7 linked regions of the Homo sapiens genome follow. The protein of the gene in region 1 purifies or fractionates together with the protein of each later gene. This does not show direct contact. Each region holds a gene or a part of one and is shown in the gene's direction. Other genes may lie near its edges. The genes, in order: BZW1, RNF138, NCAPG, ETF1, KDELR1, ZMYM3 and PREX1.

Evidence for each region.
Region 2: the proteins of BZW1 (region 1) and RNF138 purify together in Homo sapiens (affinity purification with mass spectrometry; 3 studies listed by BioGRID and IntAct, with this or other methods). This does not show direct contact.
Region 3: the proteins of BZW1 (region 1) and NCAPG fractionate together in Homo sapiens (co-fractionation; one large-scale study listed by BioGRID). This does not show direct contact.
Region 4: the proteins of BZW1 (region 1) and ETF1 fractionate together in Homo sapiens (co-fractionation; one large-scale study listed by BioGRID). This does not show direct contact.
Region 5: the proteins of BZW1 (region 1) and KDELR1 purify together in Homo sapiens (affinity purification with mass spectrometry; one large-scale study listed by BioGRID and IntAct). This does not show direct contact.
Region 6: the proteins of BZW1 (region 1) and ZMYM3 fractionate together in Homo sapiens (co-fractionation; one large-scale study listed by BioGRID). This does not show direct contact.
Region 7: the proteins of BZW1 (region 1) and PREX1 purify together in Homo sapiens (affinity purification with mass spectrometry; one large-scale study listed by BioGRID and IntAct). This does not show direct contact.

What each region holds. Positions count from the first base shown.
Region 1 is NC_000002.12:200,818,410-200,821,909, forward strand, and holds part of BZW1 (eIF5-mimic protein 2), read left to right. Parts: intron 1-345; coding exon 346-492; intron 493-1,572; coding exon 1,573-1,711; intron 1,712-2,773; coding exon 2,774-2,896; intron 2,897-3,500. UniProt on the Homo sapiens protein: Translation initiation regulator which represses repeat-associated non-AUG (RAN) initiated translation probably by acting as a competitive inhibitor of eukaryotic translation initiation factor 5 (EIF5) function.
Region 2 is NC_000018.10:32,098,374-32,101,873, forward strand, and holds part of RNF138 (E3 ubiquitin-protein ligase RNF138), read left to right. Parts: intron 1-3,500. UniProt on the Homo sapiens protein: E3 ubiquitin-protein ligase involved in DNA damage response by promoting DNA resection and homologous recombination.
Region 3 is NC_000004.12:17,841,979-17,845,365, forward strand, and holds the end of NCAPG (condensin complex subunit 3), read left to right. Parts: exon of another isoform or gene 1-331; coding exon 332-401; exon of another isoform or gene 402-1,323; coding exon 1,324-1,447; 3' UTR 1,448-2,887; downstream 2,888-3,387. UniProt on the Homo sapiens protein: Regulatory subunit of the condensin complex, a complex required for conversion of interphase chromatin into mitotic-like condense chromosomes.
Region 4 is NC_000005.10:138,533,237-138,536,736, reverse strand, and holds part of ETF1 (eukaryotic peptide chain release factor subunit 1), read left to right. Parts: intron 1-3,500. UniProt on the Homo sapiens protein: Component of the eRF1-eRF3-GTP ternary complex, a ternary complex that mediates translation termination in response to the termination codons. The eRF1-eRF3-GTP complex binds to a stop codon in the ribosomal A-site.
Region 5 is NC_000019.10:48,385,314-48,388,551, reverse strand, and holds part of KDELR1 (ER lumen protein-retaining receptor 1), read left to right. Parts: intron 1-3,238. UniProt on the Homo sapiens protein: Receptor for the C-terminal sequence motif K-D-E-L that is present on endoplasmic reticulum resident proteins and that mediates their recycling from the Golgi back to the endoplasmic reticulum.
Region 6 is NC_000023.11:71,244,141-71,247,640, reverse strand, and holds part of ZMYM3 (zinc finger MYM-type protein 3), read left to right. Parts: intron 1-130; coding exon 131-296; intron 297-948; coding exon 949-1,046; intron 1,047-1,128; coding exon 1,129-1,288; intron 1,289-1,542; coding exon 1,543-1,655; intron 1,656-1,798; coding exon 1,799-1,973; intron 1,974-2,155; coding exon 2,156-2,302; intron 2,303-2,747; coding exon 2,748-2,851; intron 2,852-3,170; coding exon 3,171-3,339; intron 3,340-3,500. UniProt on the Homo sapiens protein: Plays a role in the regulation of cell morphology and cytoskeletal organization.
Region 7 is NC_000020.11:48,626,376-48,628,999, reverse strand, and holds part of PREX1 (phosphatidylinositol 3,4,5-trisphosphate-dependent Rac exchanger 1 protein), read left to right. Parts: intron 1-1,036; coding exon 1,037-1,139; intron 1,140-1,384; coding exon 1,385-1,452; intron 1,453-2,624.

The sequences.
Region 1 (3,500 bases):
ACCGTCTTTTTATGGCTAAGCTTCTGGCATAGAGATTTTCACTAATTTGAGGAACTTACTTCACCAGGATGAGATTGAGTTAATAGTAACAGGATGTTATACTGGAACTTTGCCTCATTCTTTTGCATATGCTTCTTCAGTGCCTGACTGAGGCCCAGAAATACAAGAGACTGGAGCTCAGGGCACCTTTCAGTTGTAAAGGTCTCTTTTTATATGTGGTACACATGTGGTTGCCAGTTGCATGGAAAAGGAGTTGTTAGTTTTTGTTAAAGGTCTAAACTTGATGTGTGAAGTATGTACATAATCAAAACTGACTTCTGTTACTAAATTTGGATTCATTTGCAGATAATTTTATATGTCAAGGAGGAGATGAAAAAAAACAACATCCCAGAGCCAGTTGTCATCGGAATAGTCTGGTCAAGTGTAATGAGCACTGTGGAATGGAACAAAAAAGAGGAGCTTGTAGCAGAGCAAGCCATCAAGCACTTGAAGGTATTAGAACTATGCCTTGACAAAACAAACTATTCTGCTTTCACGTGGTGATAAGTGAACTGTGACTATATTTTTCTAAGAGGATTTATCACATCCTGTGGTTCCTAGGGATGGCCCACCAGTAAATAAACAAATAGTAACATTAGCTATTGATGATAATGCTCTGAATTGGGCTGTGGTTCACAGGTTAAAAACAAGAATATGGCCTGGCCAGGCACAATGGCTCACGCCTGTAAACCCAGCACTTTGGGAGGCAAGGGCAGGAGGATTGCTTGAGCTCAGTTTAAGACGTGCCTGGGCAACATAGTGAGACCTCATCTCTACTAAAAATCACAAAAAATAGCCAGTCGTGGTGGCGCATGCCTGTAGTCCCAACTACTCAGGAGGCTGAGGCAGAGGATCTCTTGAGCCCTGGAGATCAAGACTGCAGTGAGCTTATGATGGCTTTGTCAGACAAAGCCTGGGTGACAGGGTGAGATCCTGCCTCAAAAAAAAGAACATGATGAAAAGGAACTTCAGCTTGTAATTAGATGTTTGCTTTTGAAGGGGGTATTGGAAAATAGGAATTTTTCCCCCCCTCTAAAATACTAATATTGTTTGACATTTACTTGGACTACTTGGTATAGTATTGTTTATTTTACTTAGCTACTTAGATTTTCTGCTTTTTTTTTTTTCTCTTGAGACAGTCTCACTCTGTCACCCAGGCTGGAGTGCAGTGATGTGATCTCAGCTCACTGCAGCCTCCATCTCCTGGGTTCAAGCAGTTCTGCCTCCTCGGCCTCCCAAGTAGTGCCTGGCTAATTTTTGTATTTTTAGTAGAGACGAGCTTTTACCATATTGGCCAGGCTGGTCTCGAACTCCTGACCTCAAGTGATCCACCCGCCTCGGCCTCCCAAAGTGCTGGGATTACAGACGTGAGCCACTGTGCCCAGCCTATTTTTTAAATTTCTGGTAAATAAGTTATAGTTTGCAGTGATTATAAAAGATGAGTTAAGTTCTATATTGTCTGTATTGTAGGAGTTTTGTAATGGATGGTTATTTGTAATGAATGACTAAATCTTTTCTCTGTTCCTTTAAAAGCAATACAGCCCTCTACTTGCTGCCTTTACTACTCAAGGTCAGTCTGAGCTGACTCTGTTACTGAAGATTCAGGAGTATTGCTATGACAACATTCATTTCATGAAAGCCTTCCAGAAAATAGTGGTGCTTTTTTATAAAGGTAATTTAGATTTTGAATTTTGTAAATAACACTTAATAAAAACCCTTATAAACACAAAATTATCCAAATGATGAGTTATCTGGACATCAGCTCCCTGAAATATTTTACTTCTAGTTATGAGTCACCTCTGATTAAATTGGGTGCTTTTTAGTGCACTGATACTTGTTTAAAACATCTAAACCCTATTCACAAGTTGAAGTATGAAATCTAAAGCCATCATTATGCGTCCTCAAACTTGCCTCCTATACTCTTAACCAGGTATACATTCCCAAAGTTCAGCTAGGTGTGGTGGCTCATACTTGTGACCCCAACACTTTGGGAGCCTGAGGCTGGAGGATCGCTTGAGCCCAAGAGTTCAAGACCGGCCTGGACTGCATAAGGAGACCTCATCTCTACAAAAAAAATAAAAAATTAGGCAGGGAATGGTGGCGCAAGCCTGTAGTCCCAGCAACTCAGAAGGCTGAGGTAGGAGGATCACTTGAGCCTAGGAGGTCAAGGCTGCAGTGAACCATGATTGTGCCACTGCACTCCAGCAGCCTAGGCAACAAGTGAGACCCTGTTTCAAAAAAAAAAAATCCCCAAGTCCCTTTTCCAGACAGTCTGTAGTCTTAGCTATGTAGTCATAGCTCTGGAGTCTTCAGCCTGTGTGAATCCTGCTTCTGTTCATCTTACTCCCCCACCCAGTGTTGACTTTCCGTAGTCCTTCAAGACCAGTTCAGAGTGCTTCTATAGCAACCCCAATTTCAGTTATATTGTTCCCTTTTCTCCTGATCCCAATTTTAGAAACCTGGTCTAAAGTGGCTAGTAAAGACAAGACCTCTGTTGGGAGAAAATCCATTGCAGTTGGTCATAACACTTTGAAATTCTGCACTAATCAGACCAGTCTTGATCCCGTTGAGTGTAGTTGGTATGCGCACATGTATTATTATCTTCCATTTCTCATGGATGTTTTTAGCTTTTCAGCAGTTTGTTTGCTAAGCAGGCATTTGCACATTAGGTGGTGGTTCTAACGCTGAGTAGAGTATATTAAAACTCCCTTAATGCAATGAGTTTTCTTTCCAGCTGAAGTCCTGAGCGAGGAGCCCATTTTGAAGTGGTATAAAGATGCACATGTTGCAAAGGGGAAGAGTGTTTTCCTTGAGCAAATGAAAAAGTTTGTAGAATGGCTCAAAAATGCTGAAGAAGGTAAGGATTTTCCTTTGTGTGGTTTGTTTGGTAAAGCTAATTTTAATGTGGCCATAATATATCTTCACACATGCTTCCTTCTTTCTGATGCCATTTTGTACCTGGAGTAGAGATTTTTGTTATAAGGCAGGTGGCGAAAGCTAGAGTTTAATTATTATAGTATATTTATGGCTCAGCCATAATAGTAAATGTTCTTCATGAAATGGAAAATTTTGAGAATATTTAATGTTTATAAATTTGTGGATTTCTTTTCTTTTTTTTTTTAATTAAAAATATAGAGACAGAGTCTCACTATGTTGCCGATGCTGGTCTTGAACTCCTGGGCTCAAACAACCTTCCTGCCTCAGCCTCACAAAGTACAGGGATTGCAGATGTGATTGCACCCAGCCAAATGTTGGGATTTCCAAGTGAATGCTTTTGAATATCTGCCTCATGTAAATAGGTTATTAATAAAATTCGTTAACAGCTTCAAAGTTACATGGAGGCTGGGTGTGGTGGCTCACGCCTGTAATCCTAGCACTTTGGGAGGCTGAGGCGATCAGGTCATTTGAGGCCAGGAGTATGAGGCCAGCCTGGACAACATGGGAAACCCAGTCTCTACTAA
Region 2 (3,500 bases), on another chromosome or scaffold:
CCTGGTCTCAAGCAGTCCTCCCACCTGAGCCTCCTGAGTAGTGGGGACTACAGGTGAGTGCCACAGCACCTGGCTTTGTAATTTTAACAGCTTTATTGGTATCTTGTTACTTGAGTAGTTATGCTCTAAGTATATACTTTAAAATAATTTTCTTCTTTCCTAAAATCTGTGCTATTTAATTATATAATAAAGGTTGAGGCCGGGCGCAGTGGCTCACGCCTGTCATCCCAGCACTTTGGGAGGCCGAGGCAGGCGGATCACAAGGTCAGGAGATCGAGACCATCCTGGCTAACACAGTGAAACCCTGTCTCTACTAAAAATACAAAAAAATTAGCCGGGTGTGGCGGCAGGCGCCTGTAATCCCAGCTGTTCGGGAGGCTGAGGCAGGAGAATGGCATGAACCCGGGAGGTGGAGCTTGCAGTGAGCTGAGATGGTGCCACTGCACTCCAGCCCGGGCGACAGAGTGAGACTCCGTTTCAAAAAAAAAAAAAAAAAGATTTACTTAATTTTAAATCTTGAGGACTAGTTTACAACCTTTGATTTTTTTTTTTTTTGAAGTTTTTTTGGGGAATGATCTCGATTATCGACTCGGAAAATAGATAGACTAAGTGCCAGATTTTAAATTATTTAATTTATACTGAAATTGGGAGCATGATGAGTGGGAATATTGTTTTTCCTCTCCCAGTGTTGTTGATTAGCCTTTTGTTGGGAGAATGCGTAATGGAAATTCGTCTAGCATCTGCTAGTTTAAAGTTGAGAGAAATGTAAAGAGACCTTTTTTGGTTATAGGGTAATGCCCTGTTCTGAAGATACGGGCCTTTTCAGGAACATGAAAATTAGTTTTAGTAATTCTTGATTTGTACCTTTTTCCTTCCTACTTCTGCTTTGTTTTGAAATAAGTTCTGTCTAGCACTTTGATCCATTCCAGCCCAAAGTGAGATGAGAATAATTCGTTTTATGTCTGAAGAAACATGCTTGGTTGTACAGAGGAAGGAACAGTAAAATTGGAGATAAGAGACCTGAATATCTCTATTTTATTTTATTTTTAGACAAAATCTCGCTCTGTTGCCCAGACTGGAGTGCAGTGGTGCAGTCTTGGCTCACCGCAACCTCCACCCATTGGGTTCAAGAGATTCTCCTGCCCCAATCTCCCGTGTAGCTGGAACTACAGGCATGCACCACTATACCCGGCTAATTTTTTTGTATTTTTAGTAGAGATGGTGTTGCACCATGTTGGTCAGGCTGGTCTCCAACTCCTGACCCCAAATGATCTGCCCCGCCTCGGCCTCCCAAAGTGCTAGGATTACAGGTGTGAGCCACTGCACCCGGCCATTCTTTGTACCTGTTATCACAGTTTGTAATCATAACATTTTTGGAATCAGATAATTTGACCAATGTCAGTTTCACTGGTTAGGCTGCAAGCTTTATAAAGAAAGCATCCAAGATCTCCTGTTACTTACTTAAGCCTACTAATATATCGTTTCACATATGAGAGTTTTTCCTGCCAGCTAAATTCTGACAAATGGAATTGCTGGGTCAAAGGGTAGATACAAACAAATATTTCTGATACATCACACAAGAATAATTGCAGCTCTAGTGAAGTGTCTTGTTCATGGAAAGTGCTCAAGGTTTTGATTTGAGAACTGTCAATTATATCTTTTGGTTAAGGGATTTAATACTTTTTAAATTAAGGTAAATTGGCATTCATTGCTTTAGCAAATATTAGGACTGCCTAATAGGTGCCTAGCACTGTTAGGTGCCAGGGATATTGTAAAGAGCAAATAGATAGGATCCCTGCCCTCTTGGAGCTGGGTGTTAGTGATTGAGATATATATATATATATATATAAAATCTTTGGTTGTACAGGGGAAGGAACAGTAAAATTGGACATAAGAGACCTGAATACCTCTATTTTATTATTTTATATATATATTTGAGACAGGGTCTTTCTCTGTTGCTCTGTTGCCCAGGCTAGAGTGCAGTGGCATGATCATGGCTCACTGCAGCCTTGACCTCTCTGGGCTCAAGTAATCCCCCTTTAGCCTTCCCAGTAGCTGGGACTACAGGCATGTGCCACCACCACACCCAACTAACTTTTTTTTTTTTTTTTTTTTTTTTGAGACGGAGTTTTGCTCTTGTTGGCCAGGCTGGAGTGCAATGGCGCGATCTCGGCTCACTGCAACCTCCGTCTCCCGGGTTTAAGCGATTTTCCTGCCTCAGCCTCCCAAGTAGCTGGGATTAAAGGCATGCGCCACCAGGCCTGGCTAATTTTGTATTTTTAATAGAGACGGGGGTTTCACCATGTTGGTCAGGCTGGTCTCGAACTCCCAACCTCAGGTGATCCACCCACCTCGGCCTACCAAAGTGTTGGGATTACAGGCGTGAGCCCCCGCGCCCGGCCTGTATTTTTTGTATAGACTGGGTTTCACCATGTTGGCCGGGCTGGTCTCGAATGCCTGAGCTCAAGCGATCTGCTCGCCTTGGCCTCCCAGAGTGCTGGGATCACAGGCCTGAGCCACTGCGCCTGGCCTGAGATATATTTAAATTAAAATAAATGCTCAGAAAAATGGTGTAATTACAAATGTATAGGTTTCGAGAGAGTATAAGAGAGGGATCAGATCTAGTGGGTGAGTATCGATGACCCTTTCTTTAGGAAGTGATATTGTTGCTGATATCTAAGAGAGATATAGGTATTAATTTGTGGAGGGCTGTGCTCGTGCATAGAACATTCTGGGGAGAAGAAACATTCTGGACAAAGGTCCCGAGGTAGGAGGGAACATGCAGGGCTTTGTATTTGAATGACAGAAACATCTTCTGGGCTTCAACCTCTTATAGGTTTCTTTTTTTTTTTTTTTTCAAAGACAGAGTCTGGCTCTGTTGTCCAGGCTGGAGTGCAGTGGCACACGCAGTCTTGGCTCACTGTAACCTCCGCCTCCTAGGTTCAAGCCATTCTTCTACCTCAGTCTTCTGAGTAGCTGGGATTACAGGCGTGCACCACCACTCCTGGCTAATTTTTGTGTATATATATATATTTTTAAATTAGAGTCAGGGTTTCACCATGTTGGCCAGATTGGTCTTGAACTCCTGACCTCAAGTGATTTGCCTGCCTCACTCTTACAGGTTTATTAACATTTTATTTTTTTAAGCCTTAGTTTCCTCATCTGTAAAATGAAGGAACTTATTAAGAAAAATTTATTTTTTTTTAAGAATTCAAGATCATGAATGGATAGTTTCTGGGATCCAGCCTAGCACCTAGCACATATTATGTACGCAATAAGTGTTAACTGCTATTTTCATAAATGTCATGTTGCTTTCCCAAAAATTGAGCTAATTTACAAAATGCCATTAGTACTATAAAAGTATATTTGTAATCCATCATCTTTGCCAATTTTGTTTTTTTAAGCATTTTTATGCTATTTTAATACAGTTCATAGTGGTGTCTAGAAGTCACATTAAAATGTATTTCTTTAGTTGCTAGCAAGGCTGCATGCATTTTTCC
Region 3 (3,387 bases), on another chromosome or scaffold:
AATAATAGAGGTACTTCATTATAACACATTTTTCATATACTGTCCTCAAATACATTGAACTAAAATTTGCCTTCTTTTAACTTGCTTGAAATTTCCTTATTTTCCCTTACTCATTATTAGTGCTTACAAAATAAATTAAGTTTTAATCTTGCTTGGGTTCCTTTTTCTGTGGCAGTGATAACTGGTACCAAGATGGCTAGAACAAGTAGGAGATACATGTGTTGAAAGGATTGTTGTGTTGAAGACAAAGGATTTAGTTAGCCTAGAAACTAGATTAAAAACAAAAAGCAACTGATAATAAATCCTGATAATGAATTATACTATCTTCAAGGACAGAGAAAAGTGACAGTTTCAGCTAGGACGAACAGGAGGTGTCAGACTGCTGAAGCCGACTCTGAAAGGTATGTCATGCATGTCTAGAATATATGGAGGCCTATCTTCACTTTTTATTTCTACAAGTAGAAAAAAACTAATTTTCTTGCGAATGAGAGAGAATATATAACAAGATAGTGAAAACTATAAATAGCTGTCTTAGGTATATAGTCTAAAATTCCATCATCAAGAGCATTTGACTTCTTACGGCGTGTTTGCTTTTGCCTATTAGCTGGCATGGTCTTTAGTACTATCTTTAATATGTTGTTTCAATTTTTAATTACATGATGTGACTCCTCTTTGATCTTCAGTTAGCAAACTCTTGATTTTGATAATATTTGGGTTCTCTACACTTACATACTGATAGAATAATTCTGTCTATAATTTGGGTATATTGTGTGGTAGAGTGTTTTATTTTTGGCTTCTGTCAGTCAAGCCACTGTTAGAGCTGAAAGTTGGTAGCTGTCTTGTATTCATTTGCAAAATTGTATTGTGTGTATTTTCAGTACATAGTTTTACACTGTTGATTAAATTTGTCTTTTTTGGGGGGAAACTTGTTTTTTACTATGTTTTTGGAATTTATTGCTTAAATCAAGAGAGAGAACTTAATTTTTTTGTCACTTCTTGAGTTTCAAAGAAATCTCTTTTGGACAGTTATGGTCCTCGTTTAATTACAAGCTTCATTACAAGTTTGTGGCTTTTTTTCCTGTATAACACCAGGTTCTGTTATAGTATATAAAATCATTAGCTAGATTTTCCCTGATTCACTTTGCTAGATAGCCAAGTCAGTGTTTTTTTGACATTGAGATTTTAGTTTTAAGCTAAGTCAATGGAATCAGGCTATCAATTAAACACTGATAGAATGTGAGTCAGAAACAAAAAAGTTTTATTTATAAATAAACTGGTTTTAAAGCTTGTATCTAAATTCGTGTATTTTCAACATCTATTTAGTGATCATGAAGTTCCAGAACCAGAATCAGAAATGAAGATGAGACTACCAAGACGAGCCAAAACCGCAGCACTAGAAAAAAGTAAACTTAACCTTGCCCAATTTCTCAATGAAGATCTAAGTTAGGAAAGACGATGGAGGTGGAATCCTTTAAGATTATGTCCAGTTATTTGCTTTAATAAAGAAGAAGTTACCCTTGTCAAAATCAGAACAAACCTGATGTCTTTCTGAAGATTTTCTGCTGTGCGCTTCCACGTTACTTTGGCCTGTATTAAAGCAGTAGAGCAGCATCAGTTATTATAGTCCAGAAAAAGTGTGCATCAGTCAGTCACACAGATTTATCACAATCTGAGGTGGGCCTAGGAATCTCATTTTTAAATAGTCTCTCCAAGTGATTCTTATGAACTCTTTATGTTTAAAATCATGTCATTATGGAAAACTTACAAGTGTAACTAGCTAGTAGCTTGCATTTGAGAAGCTTATGACTTAGATGGGCAGAATCAACAAAGATGAAACCGCCTGAGGACACATTTAACAAGTAACATTTCTAGGGAAAATGAAGGAAGTACCACAAACTGGCTAGAAAGGAGCTTATCAATCACCAGTGAGGAAGACCAGTATAACGTTCAACAACAGTTATTTTGACAAAAACTTATTTTGTGATTCCTACAGTGAAAACATTTTTGGTGATATCTGCCTGGGAAATCTCTCTTCCTAAAGTATTTGTATATGGGAGTCCTTGTTTGTGAATGTTTCCTGGATTAGGGAGGTGTCAACATAAATGTATTATTAACCATGAAGCTGCTCGCTATATTTTTGGCATAACAAAATAATATTTATTTACTGTGGATAATAATTCTAGTGGGAATATAATGTGACAGGAACTTCTCTTTATATACGCTACCAATTTATGAGCACTATTCACTGTCAATTTCATTTCTTGTCTTTTGAAATTGACACTTGGCCTGACTTACGAAACTTGTACTATATGAAATTGGTCCTCTTTTCTGCAATACCCAACGAAACACCTTTTCTCTTTATTATTCAGAAATGTCCTAACATGGATCTGTTTGTTTTAATAATTGTGCTTTTTTTAGGCTTATCATCTACTAGAGGCCATTTACTTAAGGTGAAATTTTAAGATGGAGCTAAAGTAAGATCACTGGTTTTTAGAACCAAATTGCTATACATATGTGCCTCATAGAACTTATAAAAGGAGTCAAAGTTTCAAAGCAAGATAGTTATTAAGCAAAAGGAAAAATGGTAATGATAGAAAGTCAGTTAAAAATAGATGATTGTTCTTCATTCTGTTTGTTGGCTCTGTGTTCTCCTGTGCTTCAGATTCCTTATGTGTTGTTGTTTTAAAGACAATTTGCAGGGGGTTGGGAGAAGGACTGAAAAGGTACATTAAGTGTGCTGTAAGGAAAAGTCTTAGAAACATAATAAGCTAAAATCCCATTCACACATGGCCAGGCTATCCAAAAAGAAAGGAGCCATGTTCTCATGTGGTTTACCATACCAAAGCTTGCTTTCTCTGGCATGGGAAAAATAAATTTAAGCACCAAACCTTTAGTATTCTGAGTATTCAGTTTTTAGACATAGTCATGTAGCCATTGCTGAAACTGTGCTTTGCACTATTAAAGGTAGGGAATGTCCTGCTTTTAAAAGTCATCCCTTTAACTTTAAAATAAAAGGCTAAGGTACAATAAAACAGATGTAAATCCATTTACCATTTTTCATTCAAAACTGGTAACTTACAGAAACCACATAGTATTTTTCTCTATCAAGAGGCACAGATTTGCTGAACAGTAAACATGCAATTGTGCCATTGCTCTTAAAGCCCACAGACTTAGATTTAAAATACAGAGAAAGAACTGATAAGCTCACATTTTCCTGTGAATGGGAAACATGCTACTTGACAAAAAGCTATGATCAACTTTTTTTCTTCTGTACATATATAACGTTGAAGGAGATTTACTTCTAAGAGATACCTTTGCCTTTTCTTTCACCAATTTGCTTCGAGGTAGTTGGTATCCACCTGTTTTACAACTGCTCATGGGTCAGGT
Region 4 (3,500 bases), on another chromosome or scaffold:
TCTTCGATCCTATTTGAAGAGTAGGAAGGAGAAATTTGCCTTCCCACTGCTGGATCTGTTCAACTAAGAGGCTGGACAGTAGAAATTACTTCTCAGTCCAGCCTATTCTCTAGGGCTCTCAGAATAGAACCTTCTCCTAGGATACATTCTGTAGGTGTCTTTTAATTCTTCAGCAGCCTACTATCTTAGTGAGGGGGAGAAGGAATTAGGAAGGTTCAGGCTTTTTTTCCCCGGCAGGTTAGAAATTGAGAGTCTGAGGTTTCTCACTGGGTACTGTCCTCAGAGAGTATGATGAAGCTCCCTCTGATACGGTTTTATCTTATGCCATTTGACACACATCCTTGCCCACTCTCTTTACTCTTCTCACAATCCTTTCAGGTTCAGAGGACTTGACATTTTCAGGTGCCTGGCAACTGGTTCTTATCATACAGATAGCTCTGCATGTTGAGTTTGTACTCTTGTTTTCACATTTTCATTTGTTCTTCTAAGATCTCCTTTAGAAGAATGATCATAGTCAAAATAAAAGGTTCTTTTTGTTTTCCTGCTGTGTCTGTGACCTTATAAACTAGATTTTCCTCCAAAATACACATCTGGGTATATGAATATGAAGCCAGAAATGCACTTTTACTATTAACCAGTAAGCTAATGGGCTTCACCAAACATCTGCTGTGAGTTGGGCACTAGACATTTTGGAAGAAATATGTAATAAAATGAAAACATGATCTGCCACACAACCATGGAATGATAATATAAACCATTTTCAACTCCATATTAGTGAGTACAGAATAACACAGTACATGTTGAAGGGGATTTAGTATAAGCAGATGATTAAGGTCTTTTTTTTTTTTTTTTTTTTTTTTTTGAGGCGGAGTCTCGCTTTCCCGCCCAGGCTTGAGTGCAGTGGTGCGATCTCAGCTTACTGCAACCTCCACCTCCCAGGTTCAGCTCAGCCTCCCGAGTAGCTGGGATTACAGGTGTGTCCCACCAAGCCTGGCTAATTTTTTCTTTTTTTTTTTTTGAGACGGTCTTGCTCTCTTGCCCAGGCTGGAGTGCAGTGGCGTGATCTCAGCTCACTGCAACCTCCACCTCCCAGGTTCAAGCGATTCTCCTGCCTCAGCCTCCCAAGTATCTGAGATTACAGGCACCCGCCACCACAGCCGGCTAATTTTTGCATTTTTTAGTAGAGACAGAGTTTTGCCATGTTGGCAAAGCTGGTCTCGAACTCCTGACCTCAGGTGATCCGCCCGCCTCGGCCTCCCAAAGTGCTGGGATTACAGGCGTGAGCCACCGCGCCTGGCCGAAATTCATCTTTTATTAAAAGGAGGTTGCAGTGAGCCGAGATCGTGCCACTGCACTCCAGCCTGGGCAACATAGCCAGTCTCTGTCTCAAAAAAAAAAGCCAATTATTCATCCATGGGCTTCAGTTTCCCCATCTGCTTCATGGGGGAACTAATGCTTTCTTCTTCTTCTTTAAAAAAGGTAACATTGGCTGGGTATGGTTGCTCATGCCTGTAATCCCAGTACTTTGGGAGGTCTAGGCAGGTAGATCACTGAGGTAAGGAGTTCAAGACCAGCCTGGCCAACATGGTGAAAACCTGTCTCTACTAAAAATAAAAAAATTAGTTGGGTGTGTTGGCACATGCCTGTAATCCCAGCTACTCGGGAGGCTGAGGCAAGAGAATCGCTTGAACCCAAGAGGCGGAAGTTGCAGTGAGCCAATACCAGCCTGGGCTATAGAGGGAGACTCTGTCTCAAAAAAAAAAAAAAAAAAGAAACTAGTTTTCTGAGGATGAGTAAGCATACATTTGACCCCCCCCCTTATAACCTTATAACAGCTCTGTGAGGAAAGCTATTATTGCCATTTCATGGATGAAGAAATTAAAGTACATACAGGGAGTAAATAGCTGCCTAATATCACAGCCTTTAGTAAGGGTCAGTGCCAGATTCTGTACTCACTTTTCTGATTTCAAAGCCTGTGGTGCTAATTTGTACAACACTACCTTGCCCTTTGGCAAGTATTTCTTTTGCTGAATAGAGACGTCTCCCATTCCCTTCTGAAAGGAAGACTCTTGTCCATGGAGATTTGTAATTTAGTAGGAGGAGCAGGTGTGCTGAGACTCAGGTGCAAAGATTTAAAAGAAAACAGACATGCTATTTCCACCCTAGGAAGAACTTGGATACTGAACATGTTTATTCTTGACGAGCATCAGTGGAGAGAGAAATAACTTGTTGCAAAATCCCTCCCCAGGAGCTCATTCGTATATTAGAAAGATCTAAGTAGTGAAGTAATGAATCCCGAACACTGGTTGTGATTGCAGTCTCTTGCTTTGCACTGTTGTAAGAACACTAGAGAAATTTTCCAGCTTCAAAGCTGCTTCCTGGTGGAATATTCCACTGGGTTTGTGAAGATCTTTTAATTTTTCTTTTTAAGACTAATAATGCCTATCATTGTAGAAAAAGTGTACACACTCTACCAGATGTGTACATTTTTGTTTTAGATGACTGAGTAAATCTTTGTTCTCTGGGGGACAGAAAGCTAAAATGAACCTTTGTGAACTTTATTCTGAAAATGTTTGGACATCTGAGTTATTCTGTACCCTAGGGTGGAGGTTGCTGTAATGTCTCAGTAAGTTCCGGTCTTGGTATTTCTCCCATTTGGTAATAGCATCTGACTCTAAGGTCAATTGCATAAACTAATTTCAGGTAACTTTCCTAGTCCCTTTGAAGGGTAACAGAATCATCCCTCCTAATTTGATAGTCTAACTAAACCTTTTATAAAAGGCAGCCCCATCCACCTCCTAACATGCCTCATAGATGGTAGTAGCAGAGGGAGTGGGGTGGCATTAATGTGAGGATCAACAAAATTAAAATGACACTTCATAAGGGTTGGTTTTGTTTAGTGCTGGTTTTCTTAAGGTAAACGCCTAATATAGTATGATGGTTTGAACTTTTAGGTGCAGTGAAAGATGGGGACAGTTAGTCAATTTAAGGCACATTAGTTCCTCTCCAAGGACTGACAATTTGTTGTTGGTTTTTGTTTTGTTTTGTTTTTGAGGTGGAGTCTTGCTCTGTCTCCAGGCTGGAGTGCAGTGGTGCGATCTTGGCTCACCGCAACCACTGCCTCCCAGGTTTAAGCGATTCTTCTGCCTCAGACTCCCAAGTAACTGGTACTACAGGTGCGTGCCACCACATCCAGCTAAGTTTTGTATTTTTAGTAGAGACAGGGTTTCACCATGTTGGCCAGGATGGTCTCGATCTCTTGACCTCGTGATCCGCCTGCCTCGGCCTCTCAAAGTGCTGGGATTACAGGCGTGAGCCACTGTGCCCGGCCAGATTTTTTTATTGGTATTTTATTTGGTAGTTTAGAATAAATCTCTGGTGTTTGCTTAAAAAAGAGTATATAGAGATGATGGTAGGAATTGGCCATTTATTCATTTTTCAAATGTTTGAGCACCACTATGTGCTAAAATGATTTTTGCCCTCAGGATGCTTATATACAC
Region 5 (3,238 bases), on another chromosome or scaffold:
ACCAAGCCAGGTTATTTTTTGTATTTTTAGTAGAGACAGGGTTTCAACATATTGGCCAGGCTGGTCTCGAATTCCTGACCTCAGGTGATCCACTCTCCTCAGCCTCCCAAAGTGCTGGGATTACAGGCATGAGCCACCGCGCCCGGCTCCAAATCTGCTAGTTTCTATTAGCATGATCCCGTGCATGTGACTTGACCTCTCTGTACCTCGGTTTCCACATTTGTAAAGTTGTGATCAGGTCATTGTGAGAATTTACTGAGACTTTGCAGCACTGCCTGGTGTCAAAACACATAAAGACTCTAGAATCAGAGTGTAAGGATTTGGACCCTGCCTCTACCATGTAGCAGCTATGGGATTCTGGGCAAATCACATAACTACCCTGTGCCTCAGTTTCCTCATCTGTAAAATGGAGATAATCAGTTCCTATGTCATAGGGTTCAAATGAGAGGTTGGTATTAATAAAGCACAGTATCTGGGATGAGGTAGGAAGTGCTGTGTCAATCAATGTTCAATGACTGAAGTGTTTAGTCCCATCTCTGATACTTTTACTTTTAAATGTTCGCTGTTAATGATTTTTATTCCATGGTGTTTTGCTGGGACCTGTACAAACTCCTGGGAGGAATTTTGCGAGAGCCAGTGCTAAGTTTGCGATCTCTTGCCTCCTGGGGCCTGGCAGGAATCATAAATTCAGGGTAACCTTTTCTTACCTGTGCCCACTCCTGCCTTATAGGAAGATAGGCCTGGGTGGCCAGATGTGCTGATCTTTTCAACAGAAGCCATAATTCAGGAGTTTTCAGGCAAGATGTCTCATTTTAAAATTTTAGCCACAGATTCAGACTATATTTCTTTTTTTTTTTTTTTTTTCTTTTTTGAGATGGACTCTCATTCTGTCGCCCAGGCTGGAGTGCAGTGGCACGATCTTGGCTCACTGCAACCTCTGCCTCCCAGGTCAAGCGTTTCTCCTGCCTCAGCCTCCCGAGTAGCTGGGATTACAGGTGCTTGCCACCACGCCTGGCTAATTTTTGTGTTTCTAGTAGAGATGGGGTTTCACCATGTTGACAGGCTGGTCTTGAACTCCTGGTCTTAAGCAATTCTCCCATCTCAGCTTCCCAAAGTGCTAGGATTACAGGCATGAGCCACCGTGCCTGGCCTTCAAAACATATCTCTAAAAGCACTGTATAGGCCAGACAAATCCAACAGAGGGTGACTTTGGCCCATGGGTCAGAGATATCAGAGGGAGGCTGCATCATGCTGTGGTGGGAATCCTGGGCTTGGCTCCAGGCCCTGGACTTTGCAAACATATTGTTACCACCTTGCTTGGATCACTTATCCAAGCCCTTGACTTAGCTCATAACTGCCCTGTTGACTAGGGATTACTAGACCCATTTTGAAGATGGGGAGACTGAGGCTGAGGGAGGTAGTGCGGCTTGCTGAAGGTGGAGGAGGCCAGACCAGAACCCAGGCGTCTTTTTTTTTTTTTTTTTTTTAAGTCTTGCTGTGTCACCCAGACTGGAGTGCAGTGGCACGATCTCTGCTCACTGCAACCTCTGCCTCCCAGGTTCAAGCAATTCTCGTGCCTCAGCGTCCCGAGTAGCTGGGATTACAGGCATGAGCCACCACACCCAGGTAAAATTTTTTTGTATTTTTAGGAGAGACAGGGTTTTGCTATGTTGACCAGGGTGATCTTGAACTCCTGGCCTCAAGTGATCCACCTGCCTCAGCCTTCCAAAGTGCTGGGATTACAGGTGTGAGCTGCCGTGCCTGACCTAAGGAAAATATTCTTTAAAAATTCAGACATCAGGCTGGGCGCAGTGGCTCACGCCTGAATCCCAGCACTTTGGGAGGCTGAGACAGGTGGATCGTGGATCACGAGGTCAGGGGTTCAAGACCAGCCTGGCCAAGATGCTGAAACCCCCTGTCTATTAAAAATACAAAAATTAGCCGGGCATGGTGGCATGCACCTGTAATCCCAGCTACTCGGGAAGCTGAGGCAGGAGAATCACTTGAACCCGGGCAGCAGAGGTTGCAGTGAGCTGAGATCGTGCTACTGTACTCCAGCCTGGGTGACAGAGCAAGACGCCATCTCAAAAAAAAAAAAAAAAAATTCAAACAGCATGGAATAGATAAAAATGCAAGACTGGGCGCAGTGGCTCACGCCTGTGATCCCAGCACTTTGGGAGGGTGAGGTGGGTGGATCACTTGAGGTGAGGAGTTCAAGACCAGCCTGGCCAACATGGTGAAACCCTGTCTTTACTAAAAAAATACAAAAATTAGCAGGGCGTGGTGGTGAGTGCCTATAATTCCAGCCACTTGGGAGGTTAAGGCAGGAGAATCACTTGAACCCGTGAGGTGGAGGTTTGCAGTGAGCCGAGATCGCGCCACTGCACTCCAGCCTGGGTGACAAGAGTGAAACTCGGCCTCAGGAAAAAAAAAAAAAAAAAGCAACAGACCTTCTGTCTCTCTTTAAACGGTGACTCTGTTCCCTAAGGGCAACCCCAGGGGTGAGAGTTGAATGGGCATCAATTTAATGGGTTCGTTTCCCAGCAGCATCAACTAACCTGGCTTCACGAGAGCCTCCCTGGAGGATTCTGGATGATTCTGGGAGCAGGTCCTGGACTCTACGTGCTTCAGTGGGAATCTGGACACGTTTCTTATCCTTTGGGCCTCAGTTTCCTCATCTGTAGAATGGGAATGACAACAGTACCTACCTCATGGGGTTAAGGCTCAGGCCAGTTAACACCCTAAGGAGCGATGCCTTGGATGTCGTAAATGCTAGAAAAGCATGAGTTGTTATGAATAGGTCCTGGTGCCCCCCACCTTCCTTCCACAAACCAAGACAACCAAGGAGCCACACCTGCCACCTGGCTTTGCTCTCTGAGGTTTCAGTGTGTCTGCAGATCACAGATCACCCCAGGTGGCACTTTCAGGGAGCTGGGGACTGAAAGGGGGCTGGCAGATGTCTTCTTCCCTGTCCCATGATGTCCTGTCCTGCTCATGAATGATGGTTGTCAGTGCTCCCTAAATGGTGGCCTGTGCTGAGCACATGGGGACCCCTTTATAGATGCTAACTCCCATTTCCTCACTCATTCAGGAACTGTGCTAGGTGCTAGGGCCACGGGGTGAACAAGAAGTAGGATCCCAGCCCTCACAGAGCTCAATTGCTGGTGCGAGTGGCCAGGAAGGAGATAAGATGGGGTGATGTGACAGTCCTGGGGGAAGGATGGCCAGGGAGGGTCCC
Region 6 (3,500 bases), on another chromosome or scaffold:
GAGGGCAGCCAGCCTTCCATCTCTAAGCTGGCCCGATCTCCAAGGGGAGGAGCATGGCTTATCCCGGGGGAAAGAAAGGGCCCAACGCATTTTAGGGAGGCAGGTCTGACCATCCTTTTGACATCCTCAGGCTGCCCGGTGCCATGCGTGTAAGCGCCAGGGGAAGCTGCTGGAGACCATCCACTGGCGTGGGCAGATCCGTCATTTCTGCAACCAGCAGTGTCTTCTGCGTTTCTATAGCCAGCAGAACCAACCCAACCTGGATACCCAGAGTGGGCCCGAGAGCCTCCTGAACAGTGAGTCCCAGGCAGGGGGTACACTCTGTTAGAGGGAGCCTGGACTCTCCTAATCCTAAGCCTAGCCCCTTTCTCCTTCCTCTTGCGTTCAGCTCACCCCTGGCCAGATAGGGTGCTAGTACTGTGAACTGTATTCTCTTTTAGCTTCCGAACCCTGCAGGTACCGGGGGAGTCTTATTTAAAGCTTCTTGGAGTTAGCATCTACTGATTGTCTATGAAATATATATTGTTAGGGAGTGGGTGCCTTTCCTGGTAGGATGGAGCATATAGGGGTTATGGTTACGTTTCTGAGATAAGGAAATCTCAGCATAAACTCTACATTTAGTGAGACTGAAGACTGCTATTTCTAGAATGTTACCCCTGCCCCTCCACAACTCCAGGGATAACAGACTCTTCAGGCTATCTAAGTGGAAGGTCTCAAATGTGGGTTTTGGGGGAAAATGTAATGTTTCATTCTCCAGGAACAAATAATCTTTTAGGCTGCTATTGCTGGGGCATAGAGGAGACTAGATCTGGGATGGCAAGGGGGTCAAATCCTAGAAGTTCCCATCTGTATTTGGTGTACCTGTTAATGAAGCTCTCCTGGAACAGGGGTAAGGAAAATGGAGAGCTAGTCCCTTGGATGAGAGCATTCATTTGTTTTGATCTACAGGTCAGTCTCCTGAGTCAAAACCCCAGACACCCTCTCAAACCAAAGTGGAGAACAGCAACACAGTGAGGACCCCAGAGGAAAATGGGAATTTGGGCAAGGTCGGGGCAAAAGCCAAGGGGGAGGATAATCTCAGAGGAGGGTACGGCGGTTGGTGGCACAAATGTTCCTCTGTCTTTGCAGATCCCTGTGAAGACCCGATCAGCTCCCACTGCTCCCACCCCTCCACCCCCACCACCCCCAGCAACACCCCGCAAAAACAAGGCTGCCATGTGTAAGCCACTGATGCAGAATCGGGGCGTCTCCTGCAAGGTGGAGATGAAGTCCAAAGGAAGTCAAACAGGTGAGCCAGGGTACCTCGATGCCACAGGCTGTATTCCAGAGTCCTAGGCCTGCCAGCCCTATGTCCGTGAGCTGGACAAGGGGATTTCTTAGGTAGCTGAAGCCTCATTCATATGGTTGTCCTAGAATCATAGAGGTGTCTTTCAGCCTTTGATTCAAGGGCAGTTTTGTGACACTGAGCATGTTAGAGCTTTTGGTGGGTCAGATGTGACCAGTCCAGCAGGGTCTCTGAGAAGACCCCTTTCTTATCCACAGAAGAGTGGAAGCCACAGGTGATCGTGCTGCCCATCCCAGTGCCCATCTTCGTGCCAGTGCCTATGCATCTGTACTGCCAGAAAGTCCCGGTGCCTTTCTCGATGCCTATCCCGGTGAGTTTCCCTGCCCTTCCTGGCTGGGTCCTCCTTTCCCCTTACTCTCATCAACTGTCCCCCTTCACTCATCATCTGTCCCCCCAACTTCCCCCCAACTGCTGGTGTGGTTCTTGGCATTTAGTTGGGATTCGTGCCTCCAGGTGCCTGTGCCCATGTTCTTGCCCACTACCTTGGAGAGCACAGACAAGATTGTAGAGACCATTGAGGAGCTGAAGGTGAAGATCCCTTCCAACCCCTTGGAGGCCGACATCCTGGCTATGGCAGAAATGATTGCAGAGGCTGAGGAGTTAGACAAGGCCTCATCTGACCTTTGTGGTATGCCATAGATGGTGGCGACGAGGGAGACAGGGTGCTACCAGCATGTCTCTGCCCGAGGGGGTGGTATTGGTGATCTTGGTGCCTAGTAGAATGGGAGGATAGTTGGGATCAGTCCCTGAAAGCTTGTGAGGGTGCTAGCAGGAGCTTGTAACCACTGAGCCAACTTCTCTGCTTCCCAGATCTTGTGAGCAACCAGAGTGCAGAGGGACTCCTGGAAGACTGTGACCTGTTTGGGCCTGCTCGAGATGATGTCCTGGCCATGGCAGTCAAGATGGCCAATGTCTTGGATGAGCCTGGGCAAGACTTGGAGGCAGACTTCCCTAAGAGTGAGTAAGATTGGAGCCATGCCCACTGAGTATGGTAGCATTTGTGCCATCAGGAAGGGAGTGTCCCTTGTGTCCCTGAGCATGACCCTGAAAAGTGTTCATTGTGATTCTAAGACGGAAGGTTCTCACAGGGAGCAGTGCCAGAGACACCAGGACAGGTGCACTCTTTTAGACTTCTGAGTCATGCTTTTTTTTTTTTTTTTTTTTTTTTAATTTTTAAGCTGAAAAAAAACATAAAATTTTACCATGTTCAACATGTTTACGGTTCAGTAGTTCACATTGCTGTGTTTTGCGTTTCTGTGCCTCTGAGCATGCTTTTTGGTATAGCTTTACTGGTTCCTTTGGCTCATCTAGTGTCAAGTGGGCAAGTAGCAGGGGTGGGGCAGGAGGGCTGCAGGGTTGAGATCTTAAGAAATTGATTTCTTCTTTCTTTCCTTTTCATTAGATCCTCTGGACATTAATCCCAGTGTAGACTTCCTCTTTGATTGTGGCCTGGTAGGGCCTGAGGATGTGTCTACTGAACAAGACCTTCCCCGAACCATGAGGAAGGTAGGGCTGGGGCTACTGTATGTACAAAAGAAGAATGGAGGCCCAAAGGGGAGATGATGCGAGAGCCAAGCCAGCAACCATAGTTTGACCTTCCCTAACCTCCTTTCTCCAACACTAGAAGTACTGAGATAAAGCCAAACTTTGCTCTCCCCCCATCTCACAAGGTCATCAAAGCTGTTCCTGGGGCTCTGTGCTATGGAAGCTTGCTGTGTGCTTACATCAGCCCCTGCCCCGGCCAGCAGTAAATATGGTGCTGACTAGCTTTCACCTTGCCTCTGGCCTTACCTCTGCCATGCCCCTGCTTTCTCTTCCCCTCCAGGGTCAAAAGCGGCTGGTGCTTTCCGAAAGCTGCTCCCGGGACTCCATGAGCAGTCAGCCTAGTTGTACCGGGCTCAACTATTCATATGGTGTCAATGCTTGGAAGTGCTGGGTGCAGTCAAAATATGCCAATGGAGAAACCAGCAAGGGTGATGAGCTGCGCTTTGGCCGTAAGTACTTGGGGATGGGGGGTGTGGGGAGGCAGGGACAGGGAGGAGGAGGGGAAAGGGGAGAAGGGGCTGGGCCTGTGATTCAGCTGAAGATGTCTAGAAGTGATAAGGGTGTGATCCCTTAAGGATGCCCTGTGAAGATGGGGAGGAGTTGTAGATTA
Region 7 (2,624 bases), on another chromosome or scaffold:
CAGTGCCCTCCCAACCCTCTCTTCCTCTGCAGCCCTCACCCCCACTCCCCAGACAGCCTTCATTGGGGTATTTATTTCCTCCTTGGCTCCCTCAGGGCAGGGCTGGATCTGGGAGGGCAGGGGCCCCTTTTGTTCTCTGCTGTTCCCCAGAGGCTAGAGCAGTGCCTGGCCTGAGACAGGTGCTCAAGAAACATTTGCTGAATAAATGTTTCACGGGGCCAGTGCTCTCTGCCTCCTAGGTCATTGACGTTCCATGCAGATTAACTCCTTTCCGTCTTTCTCTACCAGTGCAGTAGTGGGGCCTATTTTAGGGGATCTCACCTAGGGGCAGTTTTATCCCCGGGGAACATTTGGCAATGTCTGGACACATTTTTGGTTGTCACAACTTAGGGGAGGGAGGAGCTCCTGGCCTTTAGTGGGTAGAGGCCGGGATGCTGCTCAGCTTCCTGTGGTTCCCAGGACAGCCCCTCCAGCTGGGCCAGGTCCTCTGTGCACCACCATGCTCCCTGTTTCATAGTTAATAGTATAGGGAGGCTGAGGTTAACTCAGCTACCCAGGGTCACAGAGGAGTTACATGGAGGGACAGGATTGGAATCCTAGAGGTCTTGCTGCAGAATCCACGTTCTAGAACTGTTGAGAAACCCAGAGAGGTGTGAATCGATGTGTCCATCTCAAACCCCACGGAGCCGACAAGTCGTGAGGCTCCCAGGGAGTCCCCCACTCACTCAGCAGATATTTACCGAGTCCTCCTCTGAGCGAGGCACTGGGAATGTCACAGGGAACTCAACAGGGCTTCTGCAGACGGGGAAGCACCAGAGTGCCTGCCAGTGAGGGTGGTGGCTGCCTGGAGGAAGAGGAGCAAGCGGGGAGGGACGGCAGGAGGAGGCGTTGCCGTGATGGTCAGGATTGGGTCTGGGAGGCCTCGGAGGGACAGGAAGTTGCCCCAGCTCTCACCCACTGTCCTCTGACTCCCGCTGTCCTCCCCCGACCCCTGTCCCCCCACCGCCAACCCGCTGTCCTCCCTCCCCTGCTGCAGGAGCACCCTGAGCGTGTCCCTGGAGCAGGCGGCCATCTTGGCACGGAGCCACGGGTTGCTGCCCAAGTGCATCATGCAGGCCACGGACATCATGCGGAAGCAGGTGAGGCCGCTTGGCCACAGGGTCCTCCAGCACCCTGGGCTGAGGGCGTGGCATGCTTGCAGCCAGGGTGGGATGAGGGGCTGGTAGCCACCAGCCCCAGACCTGAGCCTTCTCTGAATCTGGAGGGGAGCAAGGATCTTAGCTTCTGGGTCCTTGGGCTTCTGGGCCCCACCCCCACCCCCCAGTGTGCTTCCTCACGTGCCCTGAACCTGCAGAGGCCCCTGCCTGATGGTTCCTTCTTCCAGGGCCCAAGGGTGGAGATTCTGGCCAAAAACCTGCGAGTCAAGGACCAGATGCCCCAGGGTGCTCCGCGGTGAGTGGCTGCCTCGTCCGCCCCTTCCTGTCCACTCCCAGCTGGCGACCCAGGCCTGGCTTTGGCATCATGCTCCTGGCCTAACCCCTAATGCTCAGATGGGGCTTCCCCTCTCATTTATGGGGAACCTCTTTGAGGAGCAACAGACACAACTTTGTCACCTCCCAAAGGAGCTCCTGCTCCCACCGGGAAGATGAGCCCCCAGGTGTGCCGTGAGGCGGTGACTCTATGAGATCCTCCCACCTCACTACACTGTGCCCTCAGCCCCATGCCCTCTCAGCCCTGAGCCCCCGCCCCGTGCCCTCCACCCTGTGTCCCATGCCATGTGCCCCCCACCCCGTGCCCCCTACCCTGAGTCCCTGACCCCTGAGCGGCTCGCTTTAACCTGGGGTGGAATTAAGAATTCTGTGATTTTAGCTGATCCAACCTAAGCTAACCTTTTAGCCATTTACAGAAATGCGAACTGAACAGCAGCCTGGGCCCAGGCCTGCGATGCCTGATTTGCAGGAATGCTCTCTGTTCCTGCCGTCTTTGGCATGGGGAGTGCTGTTTCCTCCTGTCCTCCCACCCTGCCCTCTCTTCATGTGGTTTTCAGTCTTCCTCTTGGTGCCACATGTAGGCCCTTTAGGATCATGACGTTGTTTCCGTCTGATCCTCTCTCCATCTCCACAGCCCTAGTTTGCTGTCGTCATCTGCCCACAAGTTTTAAATAACTCTTGTTTTGAAATAATGTGACTCCCAAGAAGTTGTAAAAATAGTCCACAGTTCCATGGACCCTTCAGGCAGCTCCCCGCCAGCGGCAACGTCTTACGTAACCACAGAGCGCCGGCAACACCTGCTGCCAGTGGTGACGAGAGTCACTGTGCGTGCTGTGGCGCTGGGGGCTCCACACACACCTTGTTTGTGTCTCACGAGTGGCACGTGGTTCCTTTCAATACCTTCACGGCCTTTGCCCTGTGCCACGCACTGTCCAATTGCTTCCCCTCTGTGGACTCATTAATCCAAACAGCTGCCCTGTGAGCCAAGTCCGGCTGTCATCCCCACTTGGCAGGTGGGGACGCTAAGGCACAGAGAGGTTAAGTATCTTGTCCAATGTCACACAGCTAGTAAATGGAAAAGCTGGGATTCTGAACCCAGGCAGTCTGGGCGTGGAGTCCGAGCGCTGACCACAT